4 linked regions of the Homo sapiens genome follow. The protein of the gene in region 2 purifies or fractionates together with the protein of the main gene of each other region. This does not show direct contact. Each region holds a gene or a part of one and is shown on either strand. Other genes may lie near its edges. The genes, in order: LIN28A, RBM34, STAU1 and DDX27.

Evidence for each region.
Region 1: the proteins of RBM34 (region 2) and LIN28A purify together in Homo sapiens (affinity purification with mass spectrometry; 2 studies listed by BioGRID and IntAct, with this or other methods). This does not show direct contact.
Region 3: the proteins of RBM34 (region 2) and STAU1 purify together in Homo sapiens (affinity purification with mass spectrometry; 3 studies listed by BioGRID and IntAct, with this or other methods). This does not show direct contact.
Region 4: the proteins of RBM34 (region 2) and DDX27 purify together in Homo sapiens (affinity purification with mass spectrometry; 3 studies listed by BioGRID and IntAct, with this or other methods). This does not show direct contact.

Annotation. Positions count from the first base shown.
Region 1 is NC_000001.11:26,413,805-26,420,829, forward strand, and holds part of LIN28A (protein lin-28 homolog A), read left to right. Parts: intron 1-7,025. UniProt on the Homo sapiens protein: RNA-binding protein that inhibits processing of pre-let-7 miRNAs and regulates translation of mRNAs that control developmental timing, pluripotency and metabolism.
Region 2 is NC_000001.11:235,144,230-235,151,254, forward strand, and holds part of RBM34 (RNA-binding protein 34), read right to left. Parts: intron 4,219-7,025; coding exon 4,175-4,218; intron 1-4,174.
Region 3 is NC_000020.11:49,122,320-49,129,344, reverse strand, and holds part of STAU1 (double-stranded RNA-binding protein Staufen homolog 1), read left to right. Parts: intron 1-4,739; coding exon of another isoform or gene 4,740-4,757; coding exon 4,758-4,970; intron 4,971-6,109; coding exon 6,110-6,253; intron 6,254-7,025. UniProt on the Homo sapiens protein: Binds double-stranded RNA (regardless of the sequence) and tubulin.
Region 4 is NC_000020.11:49,222,407-49,229,431, forward strand, and holds part of DDX27 (probable ATP-dependent RNA helicase DDX27), read left to right. Parts: intron 1-550; coding exon 551-610; intron 611-861; coding exon 862-1,027; intron 1,028-2,538; coding exon 2,539-2,585; intron 2,586-2,706; coding exon 2,707-2,793; intron 2,794-4,023; coding exon 4,024-4,129; intron 4,130-6,308; coding exon 6,309-6,482; intron 6,483-7,025. UniProt on the Homo sapiens protein: Probable ATP-dependent RNA helicase. Component of the nucleolar ribosomal RNA (rRNA) processing machinery that regulates 3' end formation of ribosomal 47S rRNA.

The sequences.
Region 1 (7,025 bases), about 210 Mb from region 2:
GTTTGTTTGTTTGTTTGTTGCTTTTTTTTTTTTTTTTTTTGAGATGGTGTTTGGCTCTTGTTGGCCAGGCTGGAGTGCAATGGCATGATCTCCACTCACCGCAACCTCCGCCTCCCAGGTTCAAGCGATTCTCCTGCCTCAGCTTCCTGAGTAGCTGGGATTACAGGCATGTGCCACCACGCTCGGCTAATTTTTTGTATTTTTAGTAAAGACGGGGTTTCTGCACGTTGGTCAGGCTGGTCTTGAACTCCTGACCTCAGATGATCCGCCCGCCTTGGCCTCCCAAAGTGCTGGGATTACAGGCATGAGCCACCACTCTTCTGCATTTGTGAAATTAGAAATGACTCTCTGGAAATCTTATGGTAAAGGAATTTAGTAAACACAGGATAAATTGTTTACTGGGGGAGGAGGAAAGTGTTCCCGAAGCAGAGGGTAAGAAATCTTTAACAAAACTTCCCATTCTTTGGCTGCTGGGGTTGGGCACCCTGGGGTTGGGGTGGGCTGGTGAGAAGGTAATTGTCCTAAGATAGCATCTACCAGAGGGAGGGGGTCAGGGAGCCCCTTTGCAAATAAAGAGGAAGGGGGAAAGGCAATTTAAAAACATTTTCTTTTCCTTTCCAAAGTTGGGGTTATTAGGATCCCAATGCCCTGTTAACTAATGTTCTTATGCTCTCTCCCAAATGCTGTAATATCCTCTTCAAGAGTAGATGAGTGGGGGGAAAAGCCCACCCCCAGCCAAAAACTAAGCAAAACGACAACAAAACAAAAAGCAAAGAGATTTCTATAACAACTCTTTTCCTTAGGTACACATCTTTAGATCTAGAAATCTGCCTGTCTCTAGAGTTAGGGAAATAGATAGCAAGCCCTTAAATTAGAGTTTCTCGACTTCAGCACTATTGACATGTTTTGAGCAGGATAATTTGTTCTGGGGAGTCTGTCCTATGTATTATAGGATGTACAGCAGTATTCCTGGTCTCTACCCACTAGAAGCCAGTTGCATCTTAGGTATGACAACCAAAAACATCTCCATACATTGTCAAATGTCCCCTTGGAGTCAAAAATCTCATCCCTGCTTGAGAAACACAGTTATATAGGAAAGCTGGAACAAGAAAGCTAAACTGTCAACTATTTTCCTGAGATTCATCAAGAATTCAAAAATCCTCATTTTGGGCCATTTTAAGAGTTTTGGCTTAACTCATGTTTCCTGTGGCTCAATTTGCAAACTCTCAAGATTTATAGAAATTTGGAAATAAGAAAAGTTCCCTGCTTTCCCATAGCTCCTCAGGACCCAGATATGTTTCAATCTCAAATATGTTTAAATTGGCTTTCTGGCTAAAATGCTATATTAGAAGACTTGGAGTCAAAAGCCCAGATTTGACCAAGGGACCAAGTTGGGTTAGGAGAAAAGGTTTTCAATACCTAGACAACTGCTGAAATTGCCCTGTAGCCAGGTGGCCTTCTTTTTCTAAAAGCCATGAGTGAGGAGGTGGTAAGAGCAACTTTATTCAGGGTCTAGGTTAGGACTGCTGGGTTTGGTGTTAGGGTTGCGGGGGCGGGTGGGGAAATATACGGAATCTTTCCTCCTGGTTTGTAACACTGCACCTCTGATTACTCACCTCATGTCTAGTTATTGAGGTACTGGTCTTATACCCTTCTCTATGTAACCCATAAGCTCTTTGAAGGGAGGAACTTAGCTGCCTGGTTAATTTTCTAGTATGCATTTGGTGGGCTGAGGAATGAATAAGAAAAGGGGCATCTTGAGGACCTTGGTGAATCAGAAGTACACTTAGCAGTCTGGGGTCCATGTTGGCAGAGATCTTTGTTCAGAGAAAAAGACTAGAGATACTGAGGGGTGTCAATTGTAGCTGCTCGCTTTCTGGGCTGGGCACAACATAGAATATGGCCTGGGCACAACATAGCACTATGAAAGTTTGTGGAGTGAATATGGGTAGATCACCACTCGGAGCCCAGAGAGGTTCCTCTCGTTTTTGTTGACAGAGTGGAAGCCACGGATTTAGTGGTCATCCATGAGTTATTTCTGTCTTAATAAGAAAAGGCAGCTTAAAAATAAATTGACTCGATTTTTCAGAAAGTTGGTAGAGAGGTAGGAAGGTTCATGAAGACATTGTGGAATCTTCTGGGGTCCTCTTCTTTCTGAGACATGCTTCTAGACAATGTCTTTTTTTTATTTTTATTTTTATTTTTTGAGATAGAGTCTTGCTCTGTCGCCCAGGCTGGAGTGCAGTGGCACGAACTCGGCTCACTGCAACTTCTGACTTTTGGGTTCAAGCAATTCTCCTGCCTCAGCCTCCCAAGTAGCTGGGATTACAGATGTACACCACCACACCCAGCTAATTTTAGTATTTTTAGTAGAGAAGGGTTTTCGTCATGTTGTCCAGGCTGGTCTCAAACTCCTGACCTCAAGTGATCCACCTGCCTGGGACTCCCAAAGTGCTGGGATTACAGGCATGAGCCATGATGCCCGGCGACAGTGTAAAGTAAAGGCTGTGACACCATCCTGAACAAAGCTTCAAATATGGGATGTTTCTACCCTCTGGTTGTTGACACTGCTGCCTGCCTTACAAGTGGTTTTCAGTAACATTCACCAGGGCCATTTAGTTTTTTGAACATTGCTAATCACACTCTACTGGAATTCTTGTTTTTTGGAGTAACTGCCCTAGGTAAAACTATGCCTCCTGTCTTCCTGCAGGCATGAATAGCAACCACTGGCCACATAGTCAGAGTGGGAGGTCAAAGGAGTTGGGGGAGAATACACAGTTGATACAGACTTATTTAACATGATCTCACCATCGAGGTTTTTTATTTTTTTTGAGACGGAATCTCTCTCTGTTGCCCAGGCTGGAGTGCAGTGGCGCCGTCTTAGCTCACTGCAACCTCCACCTCCCAGGTTTGAGCGATTTTCCTGCCTCAGCCACCCGAGTAGCTGGGATTAGAGGCACCTGCCACCATGCCCGGCTAATGTTTTGTATTTTTAGTAGAGATGGGGTTTCACCATGTTAGCCAGGCTGGTCTCGAACTCCTGACCTCGTGGTGATCCGCCTGCCTCGGCCTCCCAAAGTGCTGGATTTACAGGCATGAGCCACCATGACTGGCCCAGCGTGGTGTTATTTAATTTAGACAGGACTTGGCTTTTCTAAGCAGTAGAATATAAGAACTGAGTTTCTGGCCTAAAAGTCTAGGAACCTTTCATTCTTATCCCTGATCAAGCCGGTGGTTGGGTGGGGGCAGGGTGGGACGGGGAGGACAAGATGACTGCCCTAAGGAGCTGTGGAGATAAATCTACCCGAACACTTGAGTTCACAGCTCAGACCAGGTAGCGGGCCACTCAGTACCTCCTGGTATAGGCGCCCTCGGGCTTACCTTTGGGCAGACAGGCTGAGCAGCGCCATCTGGTGGAGAACTCCAGGCAGGAGCTACAGGGCCTGGCTGTGGCTGAGCAGAGGGGATCAGAGGGATTGGCTGCCTGCAGCCTTCTGTTCCAGACACCCCTTTCACCAACCTCCTTGACACACACCCTCCTTGACACACACACCATCGAATAACTGCTTCTGGGAGAACCGGTTGGTTCTCCCTTACCAAATCTTACCTCCAGGAATGAAGCTAAGTTAGGGATGTGACACCACAGGACTGAATCATTAAAATTACTTTCATCAGCTGCTTTTTTAAACGTAGCTACTAGAAAGTTTTCAATTATATATGTGACTTGCATCATAATGAATTGCACTGGGGAGAGTTAGGCCAGCTGCACTCAGCTCAGCTCTTGCCTCTTATTGCGACTTTAACCAAGGTGCTTATTAACCCCTCTGCCTCCATGTCCTCAAGCTGTAAAATGAGGGTCTTCATATCACCCCACTGCACCAGTTTGATATGAGGGTTAAATGAGTTACAACACGTAAAGTGGTTAGAATGCCACTTAGCCTACAGTAAGAATCAATTAGTAACAGTTATTTTGCATAGTACTTAGACATTCAACAAATGCTTGTGCAAGCTAAGAACCTAGAATTGAGGTAGAGACCTGCACTACAGAATCTTCCGGCTGGAATGGCCCTGGAAGAAGATCTGGAATAGCCTCTTGCGGAAGAGCCAAGAACCCCAGCTTTAATCTGCACAACTGTAGCAAGTACCCTGAAATTCTGTTGCCACTTCTGGAGAAAGGACACTTAGGTTCCTTTGTGTTGTTTTTTTTTTTTCTCTTCATACTTTTTTCTTTTATAATGTTTTCTTTTGTTTTTAACTCCACATTTCCTAAGTGACCCCTAAGGCTCATTCTATCTCTAAGCTTGCAAAGGCATAAATTGAAGCTGGGATGAGGTACTTGGTGTGGGTTGGATAGGGTAAGGCAGGCAATTACTGAGGTATTAAGAAGGGATCAGAAGGCCTAAGTACTTTAACTGGAGAGATTCCTTCCCTGTTATCAAAAAAAGAAAAAGAAATGCTTGGGGTGGGCGCGGTGGCTCACGCCTGTAATCCCAGCACTTTGGGAGGCCGAGGCGGGTAGATCATGAGGTCAGGAGATCGAGACCATCCTGGCTAACGCGGTGAAACCCCGTCTCTACTAAAAATACAAAAAATTAGCCAGGAATGGTGGCAGGAGCCTGTAGTCCCAGCTACTCGGCAGGCTGAGGCAGGAGAATGGCGTGAACCCGGGAGGCGGAGCTTGCAGTGAGCCGAGATTGTGCCACTGCACTCCGGCCTGGGCAACAGAGCCAGACTTTTTAAAAAAAAAAAAAAGAAAAAGAAATGCTGTCTGTTGTCTGATGCCACATTCCCCAACACAGTAGGCCCATGTAGGCTCCCCACAGTCCTAACTTGAAGAAATTGGGAAAGGATGATATGGGTCATGCCTTCTCTCCCCCTCCCCTTTAAAATAATTTATCTGAATCAATAATTCAGGATTGGACTGAAGAGACCCAAGGGGAGGGGGTCCTGTTTGGTTCTATCCATGAAGTGGGCAGTGCGCAAGCCAGAGAAGGGAGATGGCTGCTGATGGTGACTTTGGCAAGACTGCCTGGGGAAGGAAGAATTTTCTATATCTAGTTCTCTCCCGTGACCATAACCCCAACATAGAGAGGAAGGAAGAAACAGTTGAATGTGGGGAGGAGGGAGAGGGAGATGCAAGAGGGATCTGCTCCTTGGAACTCCAGGAATCTGACCACCAGAACCAGCCAGTGTCAACTCTTTGTTTCCTGGGGCTGGGCTCTACTGGGGGAGCTCAGGCCATGCCCCTCCCCCTAAGGTCTTTTCTTTTTGGAGGGGATGGGGAAGGGGGCGGGGCCCTGCTTTGTGTGTGGTTGGGGGTGGAATGGGGGTGGTACAAGAATTTCAGGCGCTTTTCAGATGCAGGCCCTGGGAGGCTGGCTCTGTGGGGCTGCACGCTGATTACCTATCTGATAAGAGAGGAATTCAAACTATGTGTTTTAGAAAGGGGCGGGGGAGGAGGGCAGGGAGCCACCCCTGGAGACCACCAGTTTAAATCTCTTGATTACACTGAGGTACCTGCAGGGGTGGGGGTTTACTCTGTAAAAGTCTTAGACCTCAGATCCTCCAGTGATGCAGTGAGTGACCTGAGAGGACTAGTCAATTTCTTGTTGCATGTCCCCATTTATATGATCCTCTTAAAATAAACCTATGAGGTGTCCATAGAGGAAGGTGTTACTCTCCAGTCAACTGGGGCTTAGAGAGGGGATATTCTTCTAAGTTTCTATAGCTAGTTAGGATAAAACCAGATGCTTGGCACTTAGTTCTCTCTGTTAACCCACGCCACCCAGTGTGAAGAGGTTGATAATTGCCACTCCCTGAGGATTTATGTGTAGCAGGCGAAGTGCTAACTACTTTTCATGTGTAAAACCTCACAGCACTACCATAAAATTAGTATTTACTCCATTTTATAGATGATTAAAGAAAGGAGGGAACAGGCCATCAGACTCAATCAACCCTTGTTCTTAACTATTTACCTGCTGAATCACAGCTAGAACTAGGAGTGTCCCAGCCTAAGACAAGCTGGGCAAGCAAATGAAGCTGGAATTGCTTGGGTCCAGAAGGCTCTTGGTCTGGCTCCTCTAGGACCTCCCAACTCACCCACTAATTGCATCTCTTGTCCCACCCCGCTCAATAAAAAATAAGTCAAATCTAATATAATCTTTATTTTTTGAGATGGGTTCTTGCTCTCTCACCCAGGCAGGAGTGCAGTGGCGCGATCTCAGCTCACTGCAAGCTCTGCCTCCCAGATTCAAGCGATCCTTCTACCTCAGCCTCCCAAGTAGCTGGTACCACAGGCACATGCCACCATGCTGAGCTAATTTTTGTATTATTTTGTAGAGAACAGGGTTTCGCCCTGTTGCCCAGGCTGGTCTCCAACTCCTGAGCCTCAAGCTCAGAATCCACCTGCCTCAGTCACCCAAATTGCTGGGATTACAGTTGTGAGCCACCATGCCCGACCTTACAAATCTAACTTTAAACTCAGGGTGGTTACTGTGAAACAGCGAGAGAGGTATTGCACCCGGCCTGCAATATCATCTTAAAACAAAAATTTGGCCGGGCATGGTGTGTAATCCCAGCACTTTAGGAGGCATGAGGTCAGGAGTTTGAGACCAGCCTGGCCAATAAGGTGAAACCCTGTCTCTACTAGAAATACAAAAATTAGCTGGGTGTGGTGGCGTGCGCCTGTAGTCCTAGCTTAAACCCAGAAGAATCGCTTAAACCCAGGAGGCGGAGGTTGCAGTGAGCTGAGATCGTGTCACTGCACTTCAGCATGGGCGACAGAGCAAGACTTTCTCAAAAAAAAAAAAAAAAAATTAAGTGATAAGGAATCTGTGGTTCCTTCATCTTGATGAAGAGCATGTTTCATTTAAGTTCCAGTTTGGAATATTACCCCCCAGCCACCAGCATAAAATACGAATGCTACTTACTCATGTTCCCTTGAGCCAGGACTAGGTAAGTGCACAGTGATCCCTTTTGCTTCTCCATTTTCTATGACGACTACTCCTTGTTGACATATTTGACAC
Region 2 (7,025 bases):
AAATTAGACAAGAGTATATCCTGTATGATGACTCTACTTATATAAAATTCTGGAAAAAGCAAACTAACACATAGAGACAGAAAGCAAATGAATGGCTGCCTGAGGACAGAGGTGGAGGGACATATTGCAGAGGGTTAGAAGAAACTCGAGATGATAAAGTGTTTGGTATCTGGACTATGGCAGTGGTTTCAAGATTGCCTACATATGTTAAAATTATAAAATTGTACATGTCAAATATGTGCAGTTTACTGGAAGTAGCCTTAATAAACTAAAAAAAAAAAAAAAAGGTTTTAAACATTTTGGCTATAAGAAAAAGGAAAAAAGTTTTACATGGCAAAATTTCCCATAAGCCAAGTCAAAAAGCCAACAAGCTAGGGTGTGGTGGTGTGCACCTGTAGTTCCAGCTACTTGGGAGGCTGAGGCAGAATGATTACTTGAGCCTAGGAATTCCAGGCTATAGTGGACTATGACTGAGTCACTGCACTTCTGCTGGAGAACAAAGCAACACTCTATCTCTTAAAAATAAAATAAGGCCCAGCGCGGTGGCTCATGCCTGTAATCCCAGCACTTTGGGAGGCCGAGGGTGGGGCAGATCACCTGAGGTCATGAGTTTGAGACCAGCCTGACCAACATGGGGAAACCCCGTCTCTACTAAAAATACAAAATTAGCCAGGTGTAGCGCACATGCCTGTAATCCCAGCTACTCAGTAGGCTGAGGCAGGAGAATCACTTGAACCAGGGAGGCGGAGATTACGGTGAGCTGAGATCACGCCATTGCACTCCAGCCTGGGCAACAAGAGCAAAACTCCGTCTCAAAAAATAAATTAAATAAATAAACAAATAGCAAATGACAAATAGAGAAAAATATTCATAATTCATGTCACAAAAGACTGATTTCATGAACATCCCACAGATCAATAAGACTAATAATTCAAATAAAAGAAAGCACAAATGACTCTTAAATTACATGACAAGATGCTCACTCATAAGAGAAATTCAAATTAGAAATACCACACTCAGGTTTCCAACAACCACAAAGCTCAAAAACATACTTTTTTTTTTTTTTTTGAGATAGGGTCTCACTGTCATCCAGGCTGGAGCGTAGTGGTGCAATCATGGTTCACTGCAGCCTCCATTCTCCGGGCTCAAGTGATCCTCCCACCTCAGCCCCCAGAGTAGCTGGACTACAGGCGTGCACCACCTTGCCCAGCTAATTTTTTTGTTTCTTTGTAGAGATGAGGTCTCGCCACGCTGCCCAGGCTGGTCTCGAACTCCTAGGCTCATGCAATCCACCCACCTCAGCATCCCAAAGTGCTGGGATTGCAGGCATGAGCCATCTTCCCTGGCCAACATACTGTTTTTGTAAAGTAAAAGACTTTACTGTTGGTAAAGATGTGGGAACATAAATAGGTTGCAATCTCTACGAGACAGCAGTCAAAATTGTGAATGCAAATACCCTTCTGACTGAGCAATGCCACTGCTAGAAGTTTATCCTACAGATAAGTTTAGCTTATGTACAAAATTACCTAAGTACAAGGTCACTCATTTACTCCAACATTATTTGTTTTGTTTTGAGAGAGCGGGTCTTGCTTGTCGCTCAGGCTACAGTGCAGTGGTGTGATCACAGTTCACTGAAGCCTCAAGCTCCTGGGCTCAAGTGATCATCTCACGTCAGCTTCCCAAGTAGCTGGGACTACAGACACGTGCCTCCATGACCAGCTAAAATATTACAGCAGGTTTTTTTTTTTTTTTTTTTTTTTTTGGAAGACAGGGTCTCACTCTATCACCCGGGCTGGAGTGCCAGGGGTGCAATCATAGCTCCACTTCCTGAGCTCAGGTGCTCCTTCGTCTGATTCCCAAGCAGCTGGGACTACAGTGCACAGCATCATGCCCAGCTAATTTTTTGTAGAGATGGGGTTTTGCCATTTTGCCCAGGGAGGTCCTGGGCTCAAGCGATCTGCCCACCTTGGCCTCTAATGGTGCTGAGATTACAGGCGTGAGCCACTGCACCCGGCCTTCAGCATTATTTGTAATGGTCATGAGACTGGGAAAAAACTTTATGTCCATCAGTGGGAGATTTGATAAAATAAATTAAGGCACACCTAGAGAATACTCTAAGAAAAAGGGCATTTTTAAAAAATGCTATAAAAATAATCACTTTCACACCAATATAAACAGATCTCCAAGTTGTACTAAGCAGAAAAAGGGAAGGTGTGGAGTAGTGCATATATTAAATACCAGTGAGTTAAACTGTTTTATGTGGGAAGAAGAACATCTATGCGTATCAGTTTTTAAATGCTAAGATGTCTCTAGAAGCTTACATAAGAAACTAAAAACACTTGCCTAGGGTAGGGAATTGGCTGACTAGAGAAAAGGTGTATAATTAAATTTTATTTATTTATTTATTTTGAGACAGAGTCTAGCTCTGTCACCAAGGCTGGAGTGCAATGGCGTGATCTGGGCTCACTGCAACCTTCATCTCCTGGGATCAAGCGATTCTCTTGCCTCAGCCTCCCAAGTAGCTGGGACTACAGGCATGTGCCACCACACCCTGCTAATTTTTCTATTTTTAGTAGGGACAGTGTTTTGCCATGTTGGCCAGGCTGGTCTCAAACTCCTGGCCTGAAGTGATCCACCTACCTCGGCCTCCCAAAGTGCTGGGATTACAGGTGTGAGCCACCACAGCCAGCCATCATTAAATTTTAAATTAAAAACAACAACAAAAAGGCAGTGGCTCATGCTCATAATCCCACTGCTTTAGAAGGCTGAGGCAGAAGGATTGCTTGAAGCCCGGGGTTCAAGACCAGCCTGAAAAACATAATGAGACTCTGTGTCTACAATAAAATAAAATAAATTAGCCAGGGTGGTGTGCACACCTGTAGTCCCAGCTACTGGGGACACTGAGATGGAAGCATCACTTGAGCCCAAAAGTTTAAGGCTACAGTGAGCCAAGATCTTGCCACTGCACTCCAGCCTGGGTGACAGAGCAAGAGCTTGTATGTTAAAAACACAAAACAAAACAAAGAAACAAAAAAACAATGAGATGGGGCTGGAGGAGAAGCTGACGGTATGGTGTGAAAATTCCAATTTTCTAACATATCCCACTAAACTCCTCAGTAGTACTTGTACATACACCTGTCAGAACCTCTGTTTCTGTTCAAATTTAGGCTCCTGGGTTTCAACTTCATACAGAAATAAAAGTATGACTCAAAAAGAAGGGTTGTATCTTACTAAGGTTTCTAGTCACCACAGCACTGAACAATGCCTGGTATCTAGGAGGATCTGCATCTTTGGTTACCTCAGCAAACACTGTGGGAATCTATATATTTATCAACTCTTAACTATACACCTGGCACTGTGATGGTTATGAGGAAAAACCGGCGAAGACCTGGTCGGCCAAATAACTCCAAATGAAGACTCAATATTGAAATGAAGTCACCAAGATGTCCAAAGGGACTGTTGCCATACAAAAGCTTGATAGAACAGGATTCCCAGAAATGTTTCTAAAGTACATTATTATATTTTATCTAATATAAAGAAATATCTGCTTATAAACTTCATCATTTCATATACCATTAAGAGAGAAAAACACCCAAGATATGAGACTAATAGGAAACCGGCATAAAGCTGAAGGTAAATGAAAAATAAGCCTTCCATATGGAAGGGCGAACAAGGAGACTTGTAGGTTTCATTCTTGACACTGAGTGGGAAACAAAAAAAATCCCCTGAGCACTGGTAACAAGCCACCACCAGTGTGGTCCAAAACCCTCAAACAGAGAACGCCAAGTGGTCACAGGCTGGCAGTATACCCAGGTGACCAGCACAAGCAAACATGAATTCTCTCTGGAAAAACACAGGAAATATGGCATTTGTAATCTGTATGAGAAAATTTAGGCATGAAGCTTTACACTCTCTTCCAAACACTAAAAACATTCTTAAAATTTCTCATGGCTCATTTTCCAGTAATATTTTCTACGACTCTGTAAATTATATTATGGCTTAAAGAAAAACGTGACAAATCTAAAGGCTCTCAAATACAGAAGCAAACAGTCAATCATGCTCTATTATCCAAATATATTAATAAAATCTATGCAATTGTTAAGAAATGGTCTCACTTTTTAGCCAAAAAGGAAGAAAGTTTAAGGTGACTCCCTTTCTCTAATTATAAACTTACTTTATTGCTGCCAACTTTTTGGATAGCGTTCCCTCTGCTGGAATCTTTCAAGAGAAAAAAAAAAGTATTAAAGACAGTATTTGAAGTATTACCTCAAATTAATATTTTAAGTGAAGTCTAAGTATCTAACTCCAGTACACTGTGATCAAAAACATTCTAGGGAAATAAACAAATCAGAAACAACTGTCCTAATTTTTTTTTTTTTTTCCTGTTGAGATGGAGTCTCACACTGTCACCCAGGCTGGAGTGCAGTGGCATGATGTCGGCTCATTGCAAGCTCCACCTGCTGGGTTCACAACATTCTCCTGCCTCAGCCTCCTGAGTAGCTGGGACTACAGGCGCCCGCCACCACGCCCGGCTAATTTTTTGTATTTTTAGTAGAGATGCGGTTTCATCAGGTTAGCCAGGATGGTCTCGATCTCCTGACCTCGTGATCCGCCCACCTTGGCCTCCCAAAGTGCTGGGATTACAAACATGAGCCACCACGGCTGGCCAATCATCTTAATGCTATATGAAACGAAGCTCGTGGCTTAGGATAAGTTTTTCCAATGAAACCATCATGCTCAGATTTAACAGGCAGGGACTCAAAAACCCAGACAGAAGTTAAGATACCGGGCTCTCAAATTGCATCAGATGACTCCTACAGGGAGGACTCCAGGAAGAGACACCGACGATGAAAGACACATGAAAAATGTAAGGAAAAGGCCGGGCGCGGTGGCTCACACCTGTAATCCCAGCACTTTGGGAGGCCAAGGCGGGCGGATCACGAGGTCAGGAGGTTGAGACCATCCTGGCTAACACGGTGAAACCCCATCTCTACTAGAAATACAAAAAAATTAGCCAGACGTGGTGGCGGGCGCCTGTAGTCCCAGCTACTCAGGAGGCTGAGGCAGGAGAATGGCGTGAACCCGGGAGGCGGAGCTTGCAGTGAGCCCAGATGGCACCACTGCACTCCAGCCTGGGCGACAGAACGAGACTCCGTCTCAAAAAAAAAAAAAAAAAAAGGAAAAATGTTAAGGAAAAAGAAATGTTTATAAATTAACATTTTATCGTGTATTCTAATAAATTTTTAAATATGTCTAACTGAACTGATGAATAATATAAAAAGACATATCACCTGTATCTCTAAGAGTTTATATATTAGCCAAAAAAATGCATGGTGTCCATCATGCAGGTAAGGGAATCCCCTTTATATTCAGGTTCACTTTATTTCCAGTCATATATAGCCTCCTTTAAGAGTGGATGGGGCAGGTAGGGAAAACTTTATGGAAGAGGCAGAAATACACGTCAACAACTACAGCTGTCGACAACATGCCAAATGCAACCAGGTACTGAGAAGATCAAGGTGAAAAGATACCAACCCTGCAAGTTCACAATCTAGAACATAAATGCCATGTAGGGTAGTTATTATAAATCTTTTCTGGAAAACCTATTTTCTTTCTCAGTAACCTGATAGTTTACATAGTAAAACTATGAAATTTTAACTATTTCTTCTGTTTGCAGTTTATCTTGCTAAAATTGCTAACATAGTCAAACTCTCAAACCTCAAAAAAACAGTACAAGACACAGAAATGGCTAAATGAATAATCAACATGTGAATGACATCATCAAAACACATTTATTGGGTGCCTTCTGTACAGCGTCTACGTCCCGTTATTTGTTTGGTTTTGTTTTATTTTGTTTGTTTTTGAGACAGAATCTCGCTTTGTCGCCCAGGCTGGAGTGCAGTGGCACAATCTCGGCTCACTGCAACTTCCGCCTCTCAGGTTCAAGCGATTCTCCCATCTCAGCCTCCCGAGTAGCTGGGATTACAGGCCCCCGCCACCATGCCCAGCTAGTTTTCGTATTTTTAGTAGAAACGTAGTTTTGCCATGTTGGCCAGGCTGGTCTCGAACTTCTGAACTCAAGTGATCTGCCTTGGCCTCCCAAAGTGCTGGGTTACAGGCATCAACCACTGCACCCGGCCTACATCCTGTCATTAAAGATATTAATACATAAGTACAACATAAGGCAATAAAGTACAGGAATAATGCAGAGGAAAAAATATCACTTAATGATATAAAGTATCGGAAAAGCTTTGAAGAAGGGACATTTTTAGCCACATACTGAAAAATACTTTCATAGGCAAAAATGGTACTTTAAGGAAGGATTCCAGGCAAAACAAATGGACTGGCAAAGGGACAAAGGTGAGAAAACCCACGTGTAGAGGAACACAGGAGAGGCAGGGCCACACTGGAGAACTGCCAAGCTAAGAATTAAGGATGTATTTCACTGACAGAATAATTAACACAATGTACAGGTGCTGGTAACCCAAGAAGAAGTAAGACAGAGTATTTGTAACCACAGCTTACAGTCTGGTGGAGGAGGCAAACGACAATTTCAGTAGAGTGTACTAAGTACTGTAATGAGGGATGGGTGCTGTCAAATGCATAGCAGGGACACACTGGTAGCCTAGAGACTGGGGAGAATCAAGGTAGGCTCCCCAAAGGGGAGAAGGCAATAGCAGGCCCCGTGAGGGGTGTGTGTGTGGCGGCTGGGGGGATGGGGGGAAGGGCGTTTCATTAATGCAAGGCAGGGAAAGAGGTAAGGGTTCCGGGAAGAAGAGCTTCAGGAAGACTGAGTTCACAGTGTTTTGTTGGACAAATTAGAGGAAGACTGAAGGTAAGGAACTACAATAGGCCTCTGCGACTATTCTGACAGGAGGTAATGAGAACTTAGGTAGGACAAGGAAAAAAGAAAGGAATGACTCATATTAGGAAGAAATCACAGTTGAAAAACGGACAGGAGTGGCAAACACTAGCATGGGTGAGCCAATGAAGAGTCAAAGGCAACCACAAAACCTGCAGCCTGG
Region 3 (7,025 bases), on a different chromosome or scaffold from region 2:
CTGCGTTCCACCCTGGGTGACAGAGTGAGACTCCGTCTCAAAAAAAAAAAAAAAAAAAAAAAAATTTTTTTTTAAAGTCATTCTAGCAGGTAGTCAGTAGTATCTTGTTGTGGTTTTAATTTATATATCTCCATGAAGACTAGCAATACTGAGCTTCTTTTCGTGTTTTTATTTTACTATTTTCTTTGATGAAATATAGGTTTATATCTTGCCAGTTTTTTTGAGTGTCTTTTTATTATTGAGTTTTGGAGGTTCTATATATATTCTGAATTCAAGTTTTTTCTCAGATAAGTATTTTGCAGATATTTTCTCTTAAGTCTGTGGCTTGTCGTTTGATTTTAAGTGACTTTCAAAAAGCAGAAGTATTGAATTTTGGTGAGGTGTAGTTTGTTAAATTTTTTATAGTTAATAATTTTTGTGTATGCTGAGATACATTTGGCTAACCTAAAGTCATTTTCCTTAGAAATTTTAGTTTTAGCTCTTACATTTAGGTTTATAATTCATTTCGAGTTAGTTTTCATATATACTGTGACATAAGGGATGTTTTTGTCTTTTTTTTTTTTTTTTTTTTGGATTTGGATGTCTAATTGTGCCTGCACTGTTTGTTGAAGAGACAGTCCTTTATTTTTTGAGACAGAGTTTTGCTCTTGTCGCCCAGGCTGGGATTACAGGCTTGAGCCACCATGCCTGGCTGAGACAGTCCTTTATTAAATAACCTTTGCACCTCCCCTCTTCACATTTTGAGAACTTCCATGCTTTCTGATACAACAAAATGTTTTAGCCTCACTTTGAACTTCCCCTGCTCTAGCTTTAGCCCCAGTGGAAACATAAATTTCTAATAGAAATGGTCTTGGCCATTCCTCCAAGAAGATCCGGTTCCTTCTAATTGGGAGTGGTGTGTAGAGACAGGACAGGGTGCTAGCATGCTTGTTCCTGCTGGAGAGCCATGGCTCTCGGTTAGGAGATAGAGCTAGGAAATATGTATATTTTGAAATAACAAGTTTATTTTATTTGATTTTAGAGAAAAGAACTCACTTGGTACCCGGGCTGTAGTGCAGTGGCATGATCTCACCTCACTGCAACCTCGACCTCCTGAGCTCAAGTGATCCTGCTGTCTCAGCCTCCCAAGTAGCTGGGGCTACAGGCACACGCCACCACACACTGGGCTAATTTTTGTATTTTTTTTTTTTCCTCTGAGACAGAGTTTCGCTCTTGTTGCCCAGGCTGGAGTGCAATGGCGTGATCTCAGCTTACCGCAACCTCTGCCTCCTGGGTTCAAGCGATTCTCCTGCCTCAGCCTCCCGAGTAGCTGGGATTATGGGCATGCGCTACCACGCCCAGGTAATTTTGTATTTTTAGTAGAGATGGGGTTTCTCCATGTTGGTCAGGCTGGTCTCAAACTCCTGGCCTCAGGTGATCCGCCTGCCTCGGCCTCCCAAAGTGCTGGGATTACAGGCGTGAGCCACCGAGCCCAGCCAATTTTTGTATTTTTTTTGTAGAGACGGGGTTTTGCCATGTTGCCCAGGCTGGTCTCAAACTCCTGGACTGAAGCCATCCACCCGCCTTGGCCTTCTCAAAGTGCTGGGATTACAAGAGTGAGCCAATGTGCCTGGCCCCTTTTTTAGTTTTTTTTGTTTTTTAGACAAAGTCTTGCTCTGTCATCCGGGCTGGAATGCAATGGCGCGATCTCAGCTCACTGCAACCTCCGCCTCTGGGGTTCAAGCATTTCTCCTGTGTTAGCCTCTTAAGTAACTGGGATTACAGTCATGTGTCACCACACTCAGCTAATTTTTGTATTTTTAGTAGAGACAGGGTTTCACCCTGTTGGCCAAGCTGGTCTCAAACTCCTGACCTCAGGTGATCCACCCGCCTCGGCCTACCACAGTGTTGGTATTACAGGCGTGAGCCACTGCACCTGGCCCCCTTTTTTACTTTTTAAATGTCTTTTGATGAGCAGTTTATTTTTTATTTTATTCATTTATTTATTTTTGAGATGGTGTTTCGCTCTTGTTGTCCAGGCTGGAGTGCAGTGGTGCCATCTCAGCTCACTGCAACCTCCGTCTCCTGGGTTCAAGCAATTCTCCTGTCTCAGCCTCCTAAGTAGCTGGGATTACAGGTGCCCGCCACCACGCCCAGCTAATTTTTTATATTTTTAGTAGAGACGGGGTTTCACTATGTTGGCCAGGCTGATCTCGAACTCCTGACCTCGTGATCTGCCCACCTCGGCCTCCCAAAGTGCTGGGATTACAGGCGTGAGCCACCGCGCCCGGCCAGTGGTTTTTAATTTTGAGGAATTTCTTTTTTCTTTATGGTGGATATCTTTTGTGTTCAACTCTTTGCCAGCCTTACAGTCTTGAGGCTTTCTCCTGTTATAAAGTCTTTGTAATTTTAGTTTAGATCACATTTAAGTGATCCTAGGTCTAATTTTTGTTGTGGTATGAGTTAGAGATCATGGTTTGATTTTTTTTTCTTCCCCCCACCCCGCTCCATGCAGATACCTAGTTAGTTGCTCTGGTACTATTTTTTTAAGAGATTTTTAATTTGTTTTGGTGTGTTTGCCAAAAATCGAGTGACCTTATATGTGCAGGTCTTTTTCGTGCTGTTCTGTTGATCTATTTATCCTTACACAAAACCATATCCTAGTTGTTGTGACTTTATAGGAAGTTTTAAAATCTGGTAGTGTAAGTCTTCTATTTTTCTTTTTGAGTGTCTTGGCTAATATCGGTTAGATTTTTAAGTTTTTTTGTTTTTTTTTTGTTTTTTTTTTTTTGCTTTTTGAGACGAGGTTTTGCTCTGTTGCCCAGGCTGGGGTGCAGTTGTGTGATCATAGCTCCCTGTAGCCTTGATCTCCTGGGCTTAAGTGATCCTCCTGTTTTAGCCTCCCACATAGCTAGGACTACATACAGGGGCACACTACCACACCTGGCTAATTTTGTTTTTATTTTTGTAGAGTCAAGGTCTTGCTGTATTGGCCAGGCTGGTCTTGAACTTCTGAGCTCAAGTGATCCTCCCACCCTGGCCTCCCAGAGCGTTGGGATTACAGGCATGAGCCACCCTGCCCAGCCTGATTTTCTATCTGTGTTATTGTAATCACTTTCTTGATAATGTCCATGATACACAAAAGTTTTAAAGTTTGATTAAGTGTGACTTTTTTTTTTCCCTCTTGTTGATTGTGCTTTTAGTTTCATATCTTAAAAACCAATTGCCAAACCCAAAGTCATGAAGACTCGCCTGTTTTTGCTTCTGAGAGTTGTGCATGTTAGCGCCTCTGTGTAGGTCTTTGGTCCATTTGGAGATTGTAATCACTTTAATATGCAGCTAACTTTCTGTTCATGTTTAATTTTAGATTCTTTCCCCATCTTTGTTGACTTAGTTTTATTTCTTTAATATGTAAAACAGTAAATGCTTCCAGAAGTCAAAACTATCATTCCCGTCTCATCCCGTCTGTCTACCCTAATCCCTCACACCTGTTGTAGGTAACTAATTTCATTGCTTGCTTTTTGAGACGGAGTCCCACTCTGTCACCCAGGCTGGAGTGGCGCAATCTCAGCTCACTGCAAGCTCCGCCTCCCAGGTTCACGCCATTCTCCTGCTTCAGCCTCCCGAGTAGCTGGGACTACAGGCGCCTGCCACCACGCCCGGCTAATTTTTTTTGTATTTTTAGTAGAGACGGGGTTTCACCATGTTAGCCAGGATGGTCTCGATCTCCTGACCTCGTGATCCACCTGCCTCGGCCTCCCAAAGTGCTGGGATTACAGGCGTGAGCCACCGCGCCTGGCCCATTGCTTGCTTTTTTTTTTTTTTTTTTTTCCTTTGAGACAGGGTCTTACTCTATCGCTTAGGCTGGAGTGCAGTTTTGTGATCTTGGATCACTGCAACCTCCGTCTCTCAGGTTCAAGGGGTTTTTGTGCCTCAGCCTCCCAAGTAGCTGGGATTACAGGTGTGCACCACCACCCCTAGCTAATTTTTGTATTTTTAGTAGAGATGGGGGTTTCACCATGTTGGCCAGGCTGGTCTTGAACTCCTGACCTCAAGTGATCCACCCGCTTTGGTCTCCCAAATTGCTGGGATTACAGGTGTGAGCCACCATGTCCAGCCCATTGATTTTTTTTATCCTTCGTTTTTTTTTTTTTTTTTTTTTTTTTTGCAAAAATGAGCTTATAAATGTGTGTCTGTTTATATATGTGTAGATATTTGTATAAAATCCTATTTTTCTTAAACTAAAGCTACCATACCATATACTCTTTTGTGGGTTTTTTTTTTTTTTTTTTTTACTTAATGTGTGCGGGGAATCCCTCTTTATCAGTGCTTAAGAGATTTGTCTCGTTCTCTTTTGTGGCCACATAGCAACCAGTATTTAGTAGGCCTAGTCCTGGCTGGAGGCTCAGAGCAGATACTAAACTTGAGCATTTGTACTGCATTTATTTCTGGACTTTGCTGGGCTAGCTTCCTTTTTGCCAGTTGCAGTGGACCACACTAAACTCAGGACAGCCTGTGAGCCAGGGGCATGGGAGTAAAAAGGTCTCCCTATTTCATGCCTGACTGTTTGGGACTCACCAGACTCAAGAGCATAAACCAGTTTGAGAAGTAAGAAGAAAGGCGAGAAAGCATTTGAAATGATCCCCGCTTCCTTTCATTTAGTAGGTCTTGTCCTTGGTTCCCCTTCCCTGTGTCTGTGTGAAGTGTGCCAGCCAGTGTGCCTTGGAGCTTTTAATAAGTGTCTGTCCGCTTTCACTCAGTCTTTCCCTCTGAAACAGGTGGCCCGGGAGAGTGGCCCACCCCACATGAAGAACTTTGTGACCAAGGTTTCGGTTGGGGAGTTTGTGGGGGAAGGTGAAGGGAAAAGCAAGAAGATTTCAAAGAAAAATGCCGCCATAGCTGTTCTTGAGGAGCTGAAGAAGTTACCGCCCCTGCCTGCAGTTGAACGAGTAAAGCCTAGAATCAAAAAGAAAACAAAACCCATAGTCAAGGTGAGAACTTTTCTGAACACAGAAGGTGTTTTCATTACTTATAGATGGGTGGGGGGTTTAGAAGGCTGGTCGCTGTCCCCAAGGTGAAAGGGGATGAGACCAACGTGCCACACCCCAGGCCTGCCAGACCCCTTAGAGGTGCTGCAAGAGCCACCTGTTAGGTAAGATAAGGACATTGTGTCAGTTCAGTAGAGGTACCCGCAGACGGGCACACACATCTGTGCAGGAGGGCGCTCATCACAGCCCTGGCGATCACAGTGGGGTATTGGGCAGGAACGCCATGCCGGTCTGTGGGGCGCGTGGTGAAATAACAGTGCCTGTGTCTCAGTGACCATGTTGCTGTTCTGAAGGTGGAGGAGATTTGTGCCAGGCAGGAGGCCCATAGTGGGAGGGTAGGAGTGAGACATTTTGCTGTGTGCCTTTTCTTTTGGATTTTTGAGCCACACTAATGGATCTATCAAAGCATTATATTGACCCCTTCCCCAACCCCAGAAAGGGGACATAATTCCATGGGGAACTTTGTGATTTTCAGTATATGTAGTTTCATGCTGTATCAAGATCCAAATTTTTCTTACATAAAAGCATACTATGTATACCTTTTGTTTCCCTTTTTTGCTTAATATAGCCTGGAAGTCACTTCTGATCAGCAGAGTGAGGGTTCCTTGGCACAAAAGGTGGCCTCAAGGAAGTAACTGGGATTCTGAGGTTCTTCTTGCCATGTGGCATCAGCTTGAGCTTTTTTAAAAAAGTGGTTCCTGGATTTTGAGTTCTTTTCAAGAAAATTGGGAACCCATCATAGCTCAGACTTTTGGGGAGTTGTAGGAATAGTGTTTTATGTTTTTTCTGCCCATTTACTGTCATATGTTGAAATATGTTAAAAAACAGCCGTCGCAGTCATAGTGACGCTTCGTTATAGTGAAATGTTGATGTTGGTTTGCTAAGACCTTAAAATCACCTAGAACAATCATAAAAAAAATAAAGCATCTTTTCATTGTTAAAATGTTAAATTAAAAAAAATCGAATTCTGAGCCATTAGGTCAACCCAAAATCTCTTATCTCCTCTCATATCCTGATCTCTGAGTTGACCAAGTTCATGCGGTGAATAACATTACAGAGTTTCTGCCTTGTTTGTTCCTCAGCCACAGACAAGCCCAGAATATGGCCAGGGGATCAATCCGATTAGCCGACTGGCCCAGATCCAGCAGGCAAAAAAGGAGAAGGAGCCAGAGTACACGCTCCTCACAGAGCGAGGCCTCCCGCGCCGCAGGGAGTTTGTGATGCAGGTGGGTCCGCATGGATGATGGGCGCCCCTTCCTCTGACCACGTCCAGCCTTGGGGGCTGATGGCGGTTCAAGGTCTGGACACCTTCCTGAGGAGGCTGGATCCTGTGGGCCATGTTCTGCCAGCGACTGTGATCCTTATTTATTTATTTATTTATTTATTTATTTATTTATTTTTGAGATGGAGTCTCACTCTGTCGCCCAGGCTGGAGTGCAGTGGTGCTGTCTCAGCTCACTACAACCTCCGACTCCCTGATTGAAGCGATTCTCCTGCCTCAGCCTCCCGAGTAGCTGGGATTACAGGCACGTGCCACCATGCCCAGCTAATTTTTTGTATTTTTAGCAGAGACGGAGTTTCGCCATGTTGGCCAGGATGGTTTTGATCTCCTGACCTTGTGATCCTCCCACCTCAGCCTCCCAAAGTGCTGGGATTACAGGCGTGAGCCACCTCGCCCAGCCAACTGTGATCCTTATTAAGACCTTGTGGCTTGCAATAATTTGATAGCTTAAACATACCACAGAAATCTGTAAAGGCTACATATCAAAGATTAAGTTGTTTATCTTAATGCTTAAAAAAATGAATGTAATGTCTGCACACCAGCACTACTGCTGGGTGCACTGGTGGGAATGTGGGTGTGTTGCACTGAAATTTGGAAGAAAGAGTCCTGGGGTGGTGGGTGCTGGGAGAAGTTTTTCTTCATTACATCTCCTTGAAGGTTTATGACATTGCTCTTTACCAAAGGTAAATTTTGTAAGTAGTATCAAGAGATCTGTT
Region 4 (7,025 bases), on a different chromosome or scaffold from region 2:
TCAAGCGATTCTCCTGCCTCAGCCTCTTGAGTAGCTGGGATTACAGGCATGAGCCACTGTGCTCAGCCTTACCAGCACTGCATTTTCAAGATCGTCTGGAGAGGATTAAAAAAATTTTTTTTTTTGAGACGGAGTTTTGCTCTTGTTGCCCAGGCTGGAGTGCAATGGCGTGATCTCGGCTCACTGCCACCTCCGCCTCCCAGGTTCAAGCAATTCTCTTGCCTCAGCCTCCCGAGTAGCTGGGATTACAGGCATGCACCACCACACCCGGCTAATTTTGTATTTTTTTAGTAGAGACAGGGTTTCTCCATGTTGAGGCTGGTCTCGAACTCCTGACCTCAGGTGATCTACCCACCTCGGCCTCCCAAAGTGCTGGGATTACAGGCGTGAGCCACCGCGCCCGGCCTAAAATTTTTATATATATAATATGTATATGTATTTTCAGAGAAGGCCAAAATTTTTTCTTTTTCAAGTTAATTATGAAGAGTTTGTTCTCTTATTCGATGTTTCAATGAAAATTTCTTTTTCACCTCTTTATTTTTATCTGCAGAGGGCAGCCACTACATTAGATGAGAAGATTGAGAAAGTTCGAAAGAAAAGGAAAACAGAGGTGAGAAGAAAAGTGGCTATTTTTCGTTGTTAGGGCCCACTCTTTACTCTCACCACGACCCCAGCATCTCTCTGGAAGCCCTTATAGAGCGGGGCATGGCTGGGGCAGGCGCACTCTTCTGTGTGTTTGCTGTGAATCTGTACTGAGAATCCCCACAGCCGTTCATTCAGGCCGGAGAGCTTCCTATCGCTCTACTTAGGTTCTGGATTTCTAGAAGTTTCTCATCACCCTCACTTTAATTTTTTTCCCAGGATAAAGAAGCCAAGTCTGGGAAGTTGGAAAAGGAGAAAGAAGCAAAGGAAGGCTCTGAACCAAAGGAGCAGGAAGACCTTCAAGAGAATGATGAGGAAGGCTCAGAAGATGAAGCCTCGGAGACTGACTACTCATCAGCTGATGAGAACATCCTCACCAAAGCAGGTAGACGTTACGGCGGAGGTGTCAGTAATGGGGACAGGAGATCAGAAGGCATCCTCCTTTACTTTGTAGGGTTTCCTCCACTCTTCTGCACAGTTTATCTTTAAGCTGTTCTGCCTACTACATTGAACTCCTTTCTTTCTTTTTTTTTTTTTTTTAAGAGATGTTGGCTGGGTGCAGTGGCTCATGCCTGTAATCCCAGTACTTTGGGAGGCTGAGGTGGGTGTATCGCTTGAAGCCAGGAGTTTGAGACCAGCCTGGGCAACATGGTAAAACCCCATCTCTACTGAAAATACAAAAATAAGCTTGGTGTAGTGGCATGCACCTGTAATCCCAGCCACTCAGGTGGCTGAGGTACGAGAATCACTTGAAACTGGGAGGCAGAGGTTGCAGTGAGCTGAGATTGTCCCACTGAACTTAACCCTGGGCCACAGAATGAGACCCTGTCTCAAAAAACAAAACAAAAGAGATGTGGTCTCACTCCATCCACAGGCTGGAGTGCAGTAGTGCAATCATACCTCACTGGAAGGCTTGAACTCACTGGCTTAAGTGATCCTCCTGCTTTAGCTTCCTAAGTAGCTGGGCCTACAGGTGCATGCCCCTGCGCCTGGCTAATTTTTTTTTTTTGTAGGGACGGGGTCTTGCTTTGTTGCTCAGGCTAGTCTCAAATTTCTAGGCTCGAGCAGTCCTCCCGCCTTGACCTCTAAAAGTGCTGGCATTACAGGCGTGAGCCACTGTGCCCGCTGAATCCTTTCTTTTAGGTTTTCTTTTCTCTTGGGATTTTGTTTGGGTTGTTGTACTTCATAGGTAGTTTACTCTTTTCCCATCTAGCCCCATGCGGCTGCCAGATGCCACTGTGATACAAACTCATTTGGGGTGACATACTCAGATGGGTCCAGCCACATAGTGGGTGCTCAATAAGTATTTCTTTCTTTCTTTTTTTTTTTTTGAGATGGAGTCTTACTCTGTCACTCAGGCTGGAGTGCAAGTGGTACAATTTCAGCTCACTGCAACCTCTGCCTCCCGGGTGCAAGCAACTCTCCTGTCTCAGCCTCCCAAGTAGCTGGGACTACAGGCACACGCCAACACACCTGGCTAATTTTTGTATTTTTAGTAGAGATGGGGTTTCACCATGTTGGACAGGCTGGTCCCGAACTCCTGACCTCAGGTGATCCACCTGCCTCGGCCTCCTAAAGTGCTGGGATTTTAGGCGGGAGCCACTGCTTCCGCCCTCAATAAGTATTTCTTGCAGAAATGTGTGCTAAAGCATCATAATACAGTGTAGTGGTCGAGAGCCTGGTCTCTGGACCAGAGTCACTGGGTTAGCTTTCTCTCTGACCTTAGGCAAGTTACTTCACCATGCTGCCACAAAGTGTCCTCATCTGTGAAACAAGGTTGACGATGGTCACCCCTCAGAGGCTGAAGTGTGGCATTGGCACTTAGGACAGTGTCCAGCAGGATGCAAGTGCTTTGTAAGTCTGAGCCGTGGTCATCAGCTAAGTTTTTCTCCATAGATACACTCAAAGTAAAGGATCGGAAGAAGAAGAAGAAGAAAGGACAGGTGAGCTTGGGGCTGCAAGACAGTATGCAGCTTGTTGGCAAACCGAAAGGAGTTTAAGGTCGTTTGGGTTTCTTGGCTCTTTTTGTTGAATTCTCTTCTCTCTTTTGGTTTTCTGGTGTAGGAAGCAGGAGGATTTTTTGAAGATGCATCTCAGTACGATGAAAACCTCTCGTTCCAGGACATGAACCTTTCCCGCCCTCTTCTGAAGGTAGCAGCTTCTTGTCAAAAATTTTCTTTGTAGAAGCATGGTCTTGCTATGTTGTCCAAGATGGTCTCAAATTCCTGGCATCAAGCAATCCTCTTGCCTCAACCTCCCAGAGTGCTGGGATTTGAGCCACTGTGCCTGGCCAGTAGTGGCTTATTTTGGCAACCATGGGATTATTGCAGCCACCCCTAACTGGACTTTCTGCTTCTCTCTTTGCCTCCCTCAACTCTTGTCCATACAGTTGCCAGAGAACTCCCTTTTTTTTTTTTTTTTTTTTGAGACGGAGTCTCACTCTGTCGCCCAGGCTGGAGTGCAGTGGCACAATCTCGGCTCACTGCAACCTCCACCTCCCGGGTTCACGCCATTCTCCTGCCTCAGCCTCCCCAGCAGCTGGGACTACAGGCACACGCTGCCACGCCCTGCTAATTTTTTGTATTTTTAGTAGAGATGGGGTTTCACCGTGTTAGCCAGGATGGTCTCGATCTCCTGACCTCGTGATCCGCCCGCCTCAGCCTCCCAAAGTGCTGGGACTACAGGCGTGAGCCACCGCGCCCGGCCGAGAACTCTCTTAAGCAATGAGTTCCATCGTGTCCCTCCTCTTCTTCTCTGAGTCCTTCAGTACTTCCCAGTCTCACTCTTCTTAGAAGCCTGAGTCCTTATATTGACCTACAAGGCTCTGCCCCTTCTGGCCCTCTCTGACGACACCTCCTGGCACTCGTTCTGCTCTGGCCACACTGGCCTCCTTGCTGGCCCTCAAATAGGTTAGGCCTCCTCTTCCTCAGGGCCCTTGCACTTTCTGTTCCCTCTGCCTGGAAAACTCTTCCAGAAATCTTTTGGGGTGCTCTCTAGCTTCCTTCAGGGTTCAACTCAGTATCCCTTGCTCAGTGAGACCTTCCCTGGCAGCCCTACCGTGAATAGCACTCCCCCTGCTGCCCGTCTGGCCGCTGCATTGTTTTCCGCAGCATCTCTCCATATGACATGTGTTTGTTTTTTGGTCTGTTTCTACCAGACTGTAAGATTCCTGAGGGCAGGGTTTTTATTTCTTTTATTTACTGCTGTGTCCTCAGTGTCTAGAGCACCACCTCACACATAGTAGGCGTTCAGTGAATGTTTGTGGAACGAATGATTGGTGGGGATTGGTGTGGTCCCCACTTGTCTGGAAACCTGCCCTGTTTGTGTTGTGCTGAGACTTCCCCCGCTCAACCCTGTCTGACCCAGTTCTTTTTTCCTCAGGCCATTACAGCCATGGGCTTCAAGCAGCCCACCCCGATCCAGAAGGCGTGCATACCTGTGGGTCTATTGGGGAAGGACATCTGTGCCTGTGCAGCCACTGGGACAGGTGAAAAGGATAGGGACCCAGGGTGGGCAGAAGGGTGTTACGGCCAGGGCTGGGCTCTAGGTTGACTTACCAAAGGCTGGTTTGCTAAATAAATATTCTTGGTTTTTTGAACTATTTCATTTTTATTTTTTATTTTGTAGAGATAGGGGTCTCACTTTGTTGTCCAGGCTGGTCTTGAATTCCTAGGTTCAGGTTCAAGCGATCGATTTTCCCATCTTGGCCTCCCAAAGTTCTGGGATTACAGGCATGAGCCACTGTGCCTGGCCATAAAATTTTTGTAACACAAAAAAGATATACTGGTGCAATTGAGAGAGTAAAGGACTTTTTTTTTTTTTTTTTTTTTTTGAGACGGAGTCTCGCTCTGTCGCCCAGGCTGGAGTGCAGTGGCGGGATCTCGGCTCACTGCAAGCTCCGCCTCCCGGGTTCACGCCATTCTCCTGCCTCAGCCTCCCAAGTAGCTGGGACTACAGGCGCCCGCCACTACGCCCGGCTAATTTTTTGTATTTTTAGTAGAGACGGGGTTTCACCGTTTTAGCCGGGATGGTCTTGATCTCCTGACCTCGTGATCCGCCCGCCTTGGCCTCCCAAAGTGCTGGGATTACAGGCGTGAGCCACCGCGCCCGGCCGAGAGTAAAGGACTTTTAAATTTTTAACCACTTTATTTTGAAGTATTTGTAGATCAGTGGCAAGTTGCAAAAATAGTGCATAGGGTCTCTCGAATCCTTCATCAATGGTGACATCCCACATAACTGTAGGACAAAATCAAAACCAGGAAATTGGCACTGATACAACAGTGTTTCCTAGACTGCAGAGCTTACTCAGTTTACTGAAGGATTAATTTTTTGTTTTGAGATGGAGTCTCACTCTGTCACCCAGGCTGGAGTGCGGTGGCGCAATCTCGGCTCACTGCAACCTCTGCCTCCTGTGTTCAGGTGATTCTCCTGCCTCAGCCTCCCCAGTAGCTGGGTTTACAGGTGCCCGCCACCACACCCGGCTGATTTTTGTATTTTTAGTAGAGAGAGGGTTTCACCATGTTGGCCAGGCTGGTCTCGAATTCCTGACCTCAAGTGATACACCTGCCTCAGCCTCTCAAGAGTGCTGGGATTTACAGGTGTGAGCCACCGTGCCTGGCATACTGAAGGATTAATTTTGTAAGATAAACAGTGCATGAGAGGATGTCCGGTCTAGTAGTGGGCCACAAGTTTCAAAGGGTCTGATGAAGGTCATTTTCATTTAATCCTCTTGGGGTATCCCTGATCTCTGTGACCATGGCCTCCTGGCCCTGCCATATCAGAGGAGGAAATTTTTTTTTTTTTTTTTTTTGAGACAGAGTCTCGCTCTGTTGCCCAGGCTGGAGTGCAGTGGCGCAATCTTGGCTCACTGCAACCTCCGCCTCCCGGGTTCAAGCGATTCTCCTGCCTCAGCCTCCTGAGTAGCTGGGATTACAGATACACGCCACCATGCCCGGCTAATTTTTGTATTTTTAGTAGAGACAGGGTTTTACTATCTTGGCCAGGCTGGTCTTGAACCCCTGACCTCATGATCCACCTGCCTCAGCCTCCCAAAGTGCTGGGATTACAGGCATGAGCCACTGTGCCTGGCTGTATTTTTTCTTTTTTTTTTTGAGACAGAGTTTTGCTGTTGTCACCCAGGCTAGAGTGCAGTGGTGCGTTCTCAGCTCACTGCAACCTCTGCCTTCAAGTGAATCTCCTTCCTCAGCCTCCTGAGTAGCTGGGATTACAGGTGCCCACCACCAAGCCTGGCTAATTTTTATATATTTAGTAGAGACAGGATTTCACCATATTGGCCAGGCTGGTCTCGAACTCCTGACCTCAGGTGATTCGCCTGCCTTGGCCTCACAAAGTGCTGGGATTACAGGCTCCCGCCACCATGCCCAGCTAAGTTTTTTGTATTTTTAGTAGAATTGGGGCTTCACTATGTTGGCCAGGCTGGTCTTGAACTCCTGACCTCAGGTGATCCGCCTGCCTCGGCGTCCCAAAGTGCTGGGATTACATATGTGAGCCTGACCATGTGATTTGAAAGCAGAAAAAATATTCTATGAAAAATAAGTTCCTTTATTTTCCCCAACCAGACGTAGTTTTTCTGTGCTCTGGTGAAAACCTAACCCTGGAGGGAGCTAAACTTCTTCTCATTGCTTCCTTGCTGTCCCTCCCTCCAGGTAAAACTGCCGCCTTTGCCCTGCCTGTTTTGGAGCGTCTGATTTATAAACCCCGCCAGGCTCCAGTCACCCGCGTGCTGGTGCTAGTGCCCACCCGAGAGCTGGGCATCCAGGTGCACTCTGTCACCAGACAGCTGGCCCAGTTCTGCAACATCACCACCTGCCTGGCTGTGGGTGAGTTTCTGGCCAAGGGCTGCCAGCCCCTGAGAGACTGTGGTGGGGTGGAGGATGGATGTGCCCCGCCATCTGTTGGTGTTGGTGACAGGTGCCAGGAGAGGCCTTTGTGTTGATTGAATCCACTTAAAAACTGGAAGACTTTTTTTTTTTTTTTTTTTTTTGAGACGGAGGAGTCTCGCTCTGTCGCCCAGGCTGGAGTGCAGTGGCGCAATCTTGGCTCACTGCAAGCTCCGCCTCCCGGGTTCACGCCATTCTCCTGCCTCAGCCTCCCCAGTAGCTGGGACTACCGCCACCACGCCTGGCTAATTTTTTGTATTTTTAGTAGAGACAGGTTTTCACCGTGTTAGCCAGGATAGTCTCGATCTCCTGACCTCGTGATCCGCCTGCCTTGGCCTCCCAAAGTGCTGGAATTACAGGCATGAGCCACCGCACCCAGCCGACATGTTTTCATAGTGCTTTAGGTGGGTGGGATTTGATTGAGACTTAACCAACCTTCACAAATGAAACCTGAAAACTATGAACATTTTTTTCGTGGTACTG